Linked DNA regions of Homo sapiens. The protein of the gene in region 2 purifies or fractionates together with the protein of the main gene of each other region. This does not show direct contact. Each region holds a gene or a part of one and is shown on either strand. Other genes may lie near its edges.

Evidence for each region. Proteins that work in one complex are often made in the same cells at the same time.
Region 1: the proteins of ECD (region 2) and SCCPDH purify together in Homo sapiens (co-immunoprecipitation; one large-scale study listed by IntAct). This does not show direct contact.

What each region holds. Positions count from the first base shown.
Region 1 is NC_000001.11:246,737,220-246,741,715, forward strand, and holds part of SCCPDH (saccharopine dehydrogenase-like oxidoreductase), read left to right. Parts: intron 1-2,952; coding exon 2,953-3,082; intron 3,083-4,496.
Region 2 is NC_000010.11:73,136,077-73,141,077, forward strand, and holds part of ECD (protein ecdysoneless homolog), read right to left. Parts: intron 3,662-5,001; coding exon 3,555-3,661; intron 3,420-3,554; coding exon 3,233-3,419; intron 1,995-3,232; coding exon 1,927-1,994; intron 843-1,926; coding exon 628-842; intron 1-627. UniProt on the Homo sapiens protein: Regulator of p53/TP53 stability and function. Inhibits MDM2-mediated degradation of p53/TP53 possibly by cooperating in part with TXNIP. May be involved transcriptional regulation. In vitro has intrinsic transactivation activity enhanced by EP300.

The sequences.
Region 1 (4,496 bases), on a different chromosome or scaffold from region 2:
GGAGGAAACAAATTAAAAAAAAAAAAAAGCCCAGGCGAGGTGGCTCACGCCTGTTACCCCAGCACTTTGGGAGGCTAGGTGGGAGGATGACTTGAGCTGGTGAGTTAACAAATTAGCCAGGAGTTGGTAGCACACACCTGTGGTCCCACCTACTCAGGAGAATGAGACAGGAATATCACTTGAGCCTGGGAGGTCAAGGCTGCAATGAGCTATGATCATGCCACTGCACTCCAGCCTGGGCAACATAGTGAGACCCTGTCTCCAAAAAACAAAAACAAAAAACAATTCCCATGTTATTTTAAATAACCCAGAACATAGAAAATGGTGAAAAGCTTTTAAGTCATCTAGAAACTATCATAAAAGTAGTATCGAACCCCCCCCTTTTTTTTTGATACAGGGTCTCTCTCTCTCACCCAGGCTGGAGTGCAGTGCTACGATCTTGGCTCACTGTAACCTCTGCCACCTGGGTTCAAGCGATTCTCCTGCCTCAACCTCCTGAGTAGCTGGGGGTACAGGTGCACACCACCACACCTGACTAATTTTTGTATTTTTAGTAGTGACAGGGTTTCACCGTGTTGGCCAGCTTGGTCTTGAACTCCTGGCCTCAAGTGATCCACCTGCATCGGCCTCCCAGAATGCTGGGATTACAGGCATGAGCCACCACGCCCAGCCATAATATCAAAACCTAATAAGGAGTTGGGCACGTTGGCTCATACCTGTAATCTCAGCACTCTGGGAAGCCAAAGTGGGTGGATCACTTGAGGCCAGGAGTTTGAGGCCAGCCTGGCCAACATGGCGAAACCCCATCTCTACTAAAAATACAAAAATCAGCCAAGCATGGTGGTGCACGTCTGCAATCCCAGCTACTCAGAAGGCTGAGGCATGAGAATCACTTGAACCCAGGAGTTGGAGGTTGCAGTAAGCCAAGATTGCGCCACTGCACTCCAGCCTGGGCAACAGGGTCGGATCCTGTCTCAAAACAACAACAACAAACCTATTAAAGAACCAGAGGGCTGGGTGCGGTGGCTCACACCTGTAATCCCAGTGCTTTGGGAGGCCGAGGCAGGCGGATCACGAGGTCAAGAGATCGAGACCATCTTGGCCAACATGGTGAAACCCCATCTCTATTAAAAATACAAAAGTTAGCTGGGCGTGGTGGTGCACGCCTGTAGTCCCAGCTACTTGGGAGGCTGAGGCAAGAGAATCGCTTGAACCTGGGAGTCGGAGGTTGCAATGAGCCAAGATCATGCCACTGCACTCCAGCCTGGCGACAGAGTGGGACTCCGTCTCAAAAAAAAAAAACCCAGAGTATTTAAAGAACTTTTACAAGACAATAATAGAAATAAAGACAATTTATTTTAAAAATGGGCAGGGGATGTAATCCTAGCACTTTGGGAGGCCGAGGCACGTGGATCACCTGAGGTCAGGAGTTTGAGACCAGCCTGACCAACATGGAGAAACCCTGTCTCCACTAAAAATAGAAAATTAGCTGGGCGTGGTGGCAGGTGCTGTAAACCCAGCTACTCGGGAAGCTGAGGCAGCAGAATCGCTTGAACCCGCGAGGTGGAGGTTGCAGTGAGCCGAGTCTGCACCATCGCACTCCAGCCCGGGCAACAGTGCGAGACTCCGTCTCAAAACAAAACAAAACCAAAAAGGCAGGGATGAGAAGAGACAAATCTTCTTTGTGGAAGAATTCCAAATGATTTATGTAGCTTCTCCACATTTATGTGCAAGCAGCTGTGTGTGTGACTGAGTGTGTTAATGTGTTTGTATGTGTGTGACTATGTTAGTGTGACTTAATGTGTTTGTGTGTGCATGAGCAAGTGTGTGTGTGTGATTGTGTTCGTGTGTGTTTGTGTATGTGCATGAATGGGTGTGTGTGGTGTGTGTTTGTGTCTGGTATGTGCTTGAACAGGTGTGATTGTGTTTGTGTGTCACCTTCTGGGAGAGGGAGCATAAATTGACAGTGGAGAAACCTGGTGAACACTGCCTCAGCCAGGTGTTCAAGTCAGCATTAACCCTGGTAAATCATGTTGACAGTGCGTAGCCCCGATGTGATATGATATGATAAGAATAGCACTTTACCCCTGTGGTCTCTTTCCAAAACTCATAATAATAATGAGAAAAGCATGAGACAAATTCCAGTAGAGGGGCACTCTACAAAATGCCTGACCAGTACTCCTCAAAACCATCAAGGTCATCAGAGACAAGGAAAGTGTGAGAAACCGTCGCAGCCAAAAGAAGCCGAAGGAGACGTAACAACCGAATGTAATCCTGGATGGGATCCTGGAGCAGAAAAAGGGGTTCAGTTAAAACTAAGGGAATCAGAATGAACTGTGAACTTTAGTGAATTAAATCATATATGTCAGTACTGGTTCATTAATTGTAACCACTGTTCATGTAAAAGATGTTAAAAATAGAGAAAACTGGGTTTCAGAGTACTTGGGAACTCTCTACTATTCAATTTTTCTGTAAATCTTAAACTGTTTTTAAAAAGGAATTTCTAAAAACAGGCAGAAGAGCAGAGCAGACATTATTCCCCTGTGCCCTCTGCCACCATCTACTTTCCTGCTCTCTGTCTGTACGTGTGCGGAGCTTTATGTCTGTGATGATGTTCATCTGGGTAATGCTGTTTGGGGTCATTTTTTTTTTGCTTTCTATTTTTTATATTTTAATATTTTATAATAGGCATTACTTTTATATTTAAAAGTCATTCTAAAAAAATTAAGTGTCATACAGTCAGACGAGCACAACTTCTGTACCACCTGGTGTGCAGTAGGCGCTGTATTTGCCGAATAAGTGGAAAATATTTTGACAGTTAATGTTTTGCTGCAGAGCCACACTGCTTAGCATTTTCAAAGTTTGGTTGCTTTGTTTTTAAAGATAAATTATTTAATACTGGTCTACATCTTTCTGCATAACTAATTAAAATTCTTATCCTGGATTTTTTAGTTTCTGGAACTAATGCAACTGAAGTATCATGAGAAAGCTGCAGACAAAGGGGTTTATATCATTGGAAGCAGCGGCTTTGACTCCATTCCAGCAGATCTGGGAGTAATATATACCAGAAATAAAATGAATGGTAATTATTGATCAATAAGCAATAATGGAATTTAACAGTACCGTGCAAAGGCTTCATGTTTCTAACTGTGGTGAACTAAAATCTAGTTGAAAAAAGAAACATAGCCATAAATGGGTAATATTAAACACATGTTTTGTTTTTAATATAGCTGCACTTTTAATAAAATGCTATTGAGACTATTGTTGAGACATGGATAATACTGTATTTTACAGTGATATATTATTGTCTCAGTATAGTTTGGGCTGTAAAATTTCTGGAAAACAACTTTGGCAACGTTATAAATTCAAACTTGCTTTGTTTAGGAATCAGCACATTTTAAAGCATAATTTGTATATTATAGTTAAAAGGTTTTAAATTTTTAACCGTCAAAGCTAGAAAGTATTGAACACAGAATTGGAGACACTTATTTAAGAATGGAGAAAATAATGTTACGATAAAACATTTGAAGTTACTGATGTTTTGCATATTTAAGAGTGTCTGGTTTAGAAAATTACCTGAGCAGGGTGTGGTGGCTTACACCCATAATCTTAGCTACTTGGGAGGTTGAGGCAGCAGGATCTCTCGAGGCCAAGAGTTCAGGACCAGCCTGGGCAACATAGTAAGACTCGTCCCTAAGAAATAAAAAAAAATTAGCCAGGTGTGGTGGTGCACACCTGTAGTCAGTCCCAGCTCCTCAGGAGGCTGAGGTAGGAGGATCACTTGAACCCAGGAGTTTGAGGCTTTAGTAAGCTATGATTGCACCACTGCACTCTAGCCTGGGTTACAGAGTGAGACCTTGTCTCTTAGAAAAAAGCAAAAAAACAAAAAAACAAAAACAAAAAACAAAACTGAAACAGGTAACTTCAGTACCATATAAAGTGTTCTAGACTTAAAAAATTGGAAAATGTTCCAGCATATATTAAAAAGTTAGCATAACTATGAAACCAAAGTCCAACAAAGATAGCACACACACACACAAACTACAAATCTTGCTTATGAAATTAAAAGTAAAAAGAAAATACTATATAAAATTTTAATCCAGTGCCATTTTAAAAAGTTTTTTAAGAGACAGGATCTTGCTCTGCCGTAGCTCACCGTAACGAATGCCTGGGCTCAGGCAGTGCTCCCTCCACAACCTCCTAAGTAGCTAGGACTGCAGGCTTATGCCACCATACTCAACTAATTTTATAAAATTTTTGTAGAGATGAGTTCTCACTATGTTGCCCAGTTTGGTCTTGAACTCCTGGCCTCAGGTGATCCTCCCACCTTGGCCTCGCAGAGTGCTGGGATTACAGACGTGAGCCACCATGCGCAGCTCATCCAGTGGCATTTTAGAAGAACAATATATTGAGACCAAGGTTTAGCATTAGGAAGTTATGCAATTATATCAGAGGTGAACAGCTATATGCCCATCTCAAAAAATGATTTGAAAATT
Region 2 (5,001 bases):
AGCTGAGCTAGACTTCAAACCCTAACCCATAAGACTCCAGGGTTCTTGCTCTTTCCATAATACCTCTGTTTAGGATTAGACAGTGGTGGCATTAAAAACTAGGATGAAAACATAAACGGAAGGTGAATCCTAAATTTGGCTCTAAATTAGGGAAAAATACAAAATAAACTGTTAAAACTGGAAAGTTATTTGAATGTTTAAGATCCTGTTTATTTACTTATGTTATTTTGTTTTAATCCACTGTGGCCCAAGGCATAGTCTCAAAAGGTCTTGAGAACATGTGCCCTCTCTTTTTTAAAATCCATTTAAGCTGTAGTTTTTTTAAACTACTTTTGAAAAAAAATGTATTTAAGAAGTAGTAGTGTACAATCGCATTCTAATTTGAGCATATTATATGACTTTTTATTTTAAATCCTGATAGATAACGTAGAATAAGTAATATAATGAAGCTTATGTTTTGGAAAATTAAGTCTATGATCCTTTATCCTACCAGAGTTAGGAAAACAATTAACATTCTTATTTATTTCAAATCTCACACACCAAAAAAAGAAAAACTATGATAAAATATGGTTTTAGCTATCTGACATACTAGACTCAGAAAGAGAAAGAGGTTAAAAACACACATACCACTTGGTTCCTAGTGGTGAAACTTTTGCTGATGCAGGTGTGTGCTAGTTCCTGGTCCATCTGGGCCATGTATGACTTGAGATTATCAAGTGTTCCTTTCAGGGAAGCCTCTTCGCCAGGTTCGTGTGTTTCAAAGTCCAAGTCATCATCACTATCTAAACATTCAAAGTCTTCATCATCCAGATCATCAGAATCTGACTCATTAGGCCTTGGCCCTACACAGATCCCAAGAAAGAAAGAGCCACTTAGTAATTATTATTATTATTATTATTATTATTATTATTTAGTTACTACACATCTCAAAATAATTAGAATGTTACCCACAGAAAAAGACTAATACACACAGTCAGTCTACTTCACAAAAATCCCTTCTACAAATGGTAATGCTGGCAGATATGTGTGCATTTAATGTTGTGGAAAAGCGTACAAGCTGAATCAAAAGATTTAGCTTAAAAAAAAGTGAATTCAATTAATTAAAATATTTTTCTTAAAAAATTTTTAAAAATACCTAATAAATGAATACATTTTGATGTAAACATTCAAGCCATACAAGTATTGTCTCCAATCTCACTCTCTCCCCAGAGGTAAGCATCTTTTAGCAGTTTCCGGGTATCCCAATCTTTCTCTCTGCAGTTCTGTACATATATACATATTATAATTATTTTTTGAGTTATCTTTTTATTACTGATTTGTAAGTACAGTAATTCCAAAAAAGAACAATATAATATGGGAGCCAAGGTAAAACCCTATTTAAACACACAGCATTCAGTCACTCTCAAATATTTAATGAGGCCGGGCACGGTGGCTCACGCCTGTAATCCCAGCACTTTGGTAGGCTGAGATGGGCGGATCATGAGGTCAGGAGATCGAGACCATCCTGGCTAACACGGTGAAACCCCGTCTCTACTAAAAATACAAAAAAATTAGCTGGGTGTGGTGGCAGGCGCCTGTAGTCCCAGTTACTCAGGAGGCTGAGGCAGAAGAATGGCATGAACCCAGGAGGCGGAGCTTGCAGTGAGCCGAGATCGTGCCACTGCACTCCAGCCTGGGCAACAGAGCGAGACACTGTCTCAAAAAAAAAAAAAAAAAATTAATGAGCAGCTACTATATATGTCAAACACTAAGCTAGGCAGCCTCTACAAAATTATTCATGGGTAGTAATTCATGGTTGAAAGCAACTCAAACCAGGAAGAGAAAGCAAACATTTTGGCTTCTGAGATATCTCATAAACCAATGCTCTAGCAACAGCCATACTACTAACAGTTTCAAAATGAAAGTCAACATCACACCACTACTTACCTAAAATCTTATCAAAATAATTAAGAAAAGAATCTGCATCAAAAGTGATTGGAGCCTCAGAAGGTTCTCTGCAATATTAAAGGACAAAGACAATTAATTTATTCTAAATACAACTCTTTGAAACTTTTCTAAAGTGGTGCCATTCTTAGGAAAGCTACCAAAGATAGAATTTCTAAGGAGGCACAGCAAGAAAAGTTGTAGTTTAAGTTTTAAAAATCCTTGAGTTTACTGGCCTTGCAGGACAACAGAAATGGGAAAGTCTGATAAATGAAAAGTAAAAATTGCATCTTGTTTATGTACATTTAGCTTATGCTGATTTAGGGACCTACCCACTCTCTAGCCCCAATAAGATATCTAGCATTAGCAAAACCATTATTTATTTGAGTTAATTTAAATAAAGCCTGTTCTTTTAAGAACTAAAGCTTAAAAAATAAACAAGAACATATCTTCCCTTATCCCTGCTTTCTTAAAGAGAGAATACCAAATATAAATTTATATCTTTCATCAGGTTCAAGAGCATCAACACTAATAATGATATATTTGATACACAAGTAACAGTTTTTTTTGTTTTGTTTTTTTTTTGAGACGGAGTCTTGCTCTGTCACCCAGGCTGCGGTGCAGTGGCACGATCCCAGCTCACTGCAACCTCTGCCTTCCGGGGTCAAGCGATTCTCCTGCCTCAGCCTTTCAAGTAGCTGGGATTATAGGCGTGCGCCACCATACCCGGCTAATTTTTGTATTTTTAGTAGAGATAGGGTTTCACCATGCTGGCCAGGCTGGTTTTGAACTCCTGACTTCGTGATCTGCCTGCCTCGGTCTCCCAAAGTACTGGGATTACAGGCATGAGCCACCGCGCCCAGCCTACAAGTAATAATTCTATCTACCTGTTTTTCCTGTTATTTGCCAAATGTAGTTTCATATTTCTGTTATTATTTCTGCCTCTGATGAATTCCTTTTTCAGTATCCAATCTGCTTGCAGGGTGGGAGATCAGAGGTCTGAACTTGTTGAAAGTTAAATGTTGAGCCCATAAAGCTACTAAAGAGTAAAGTATATGGTTTCCCTGTGTGGTTCTGGATGATGGTTTTTAGGGTGATCTTTCTGGCTTATTTCAAGGATTGCAAAGGATGAGGCTTCTAGAAATCTGACTTCAAATAAGTAAGTTATCACTATACTAGGCACAAAAAAGAAAGCAAGCAGTACAACTCATTTACTCAAAAAAAAAAAAAAAAAGTGGAAATGGCAATGACTATGACTTCAACATTTGGGTTCTAGCTATTTATATATTTATACTTTAACACAAATTACCGAGGCAGCTCTGCTCCCTTGTGGGTTGAGACTTTGGATATGAAAGCTTTCATGCTCTCTGAGACTTCAGTTAAGTCATAGTTCTGCTCCTTCTCCTCCTTGGAAACAGACTCGGATTCTTTTTTGCCAACAGCTTCCTGCAGCAGCTGGTCCAGCTGATCTGGTGAGAGATCTAACCACTGGTCATCTGAAAAAGAAGAAAGCATAATACTGCCATTCTACATTCACATAAGTCCTCTTAGGAGAGGATCCTGTGAGACTGAGTAGAACATTTTAATTTTTTTTTTTTAACCCTTCCACTGTATCCTGGTCCATCACTTACCATCCTCTGGGGGAAGATTAGCTGCTTCTTTCTTAAGGTCTTCTATATCAAATGGTATTGTCTGTAATAAGGTTAAGATTTCTTCACCAGGGCTCATAGCAAGAGAACTATGAAAAATAAAAAACATGAGTATTTCTTCATAAGAGAACATAGAATAGTAATCATAAATACATAGTATTTTAAGGTTGGAAGGGATTAGCTAGTCTAATTTGGGGAGTGTTTTTTTTTTTTTTTTTTAAGAGATGGGGTTTCATTGTTGCCCAGAATGGACTCGAACTCCTGGGTTCAAATGATCCTCCCACTTCATCCTCCCAAGTAGCCAGCACTACAAGTACATGCCAAAACACCTGGCTCTAATTTGTTTGTTTGTTTTTAACAGAGTTTCACTCTGTCGCCCAGGCTGGTGTGCAGTGGCGCGACCTCGGCTCACCACAACCTCCGCCTCCCAGGTTGAAGAGATTCTCCTGCCTCAACCTCCCAAGTAGCTGAGACTACAGGCATGCGCCACCACACCCAGCTAATTTTTGTATTTTTAGTAAAGATGGGGTTTCACCATATTGGCCAGGTTGGTCTCGAACTCCTGACCTCATAATCCCCCTGCCTTGGCCTCCCAAAGTGCTGGGATTACAGACATGAGCCACCGCACCCAGCCTTCTAATTTGTTTTTAAGCATATTTTTAGGTTGCAGATCCCTTTTTCTCAAACAAAACTTTTACCAGGAACTCTAAAATACAGAAGGGGTCAAAGAAAAATGGCCTTCATTAAAGTGGAGGATAGGCCAGGCACAGTGGCTCATGCCTGTAATCCCAGCACTTTGGGAGGCCAAGGCGGGGAGATCACTTGAGGTCAGGAGTTCACTTGGCCAACATGGTGAAACCCCGTCTCTACTAAAAATACAAAAATTAGCTGGGCATTGTGGCACGTGCCTGTAATCCCAGCTACTCGGGAGGCTGAGGCAGGAGAATTGCTTGAACCCGGGAGGTGGAGGTTGCAGTGAGCTGCCCCAGCATGGGCGACTGAGCAAGACTCCATCTCAATAAATAAATAAAATAAAATAAAATAAAAATAAATAAATTGGAGGATAGAAGCTCAGAGATCTACACAATTGGCCTTCCTTTTTGGCTCTGAAGCAGGCTCCATGGAACATCATTATGAAGCCACTGATCTCGTATAATTCTTTCTATACATACATGCAGAGACAGGGTCTCTCTCTATATATGTATATATATGTACATACAGTTGTATTATGTTAATAGTACATATACATATAAAACACGTACTAAAAATACATAAAAATATACATATAATATATATTTTATATACGAGGAAAAGAAGATCCAGAAGGAAAGCATCAATTAAAATTTATCTAGCATGTATTAAATGCTATGCTAACACTTTAAATACATTTTCTTATTGAGTCCTTTTGTTACTATTATAGAAGGTAATA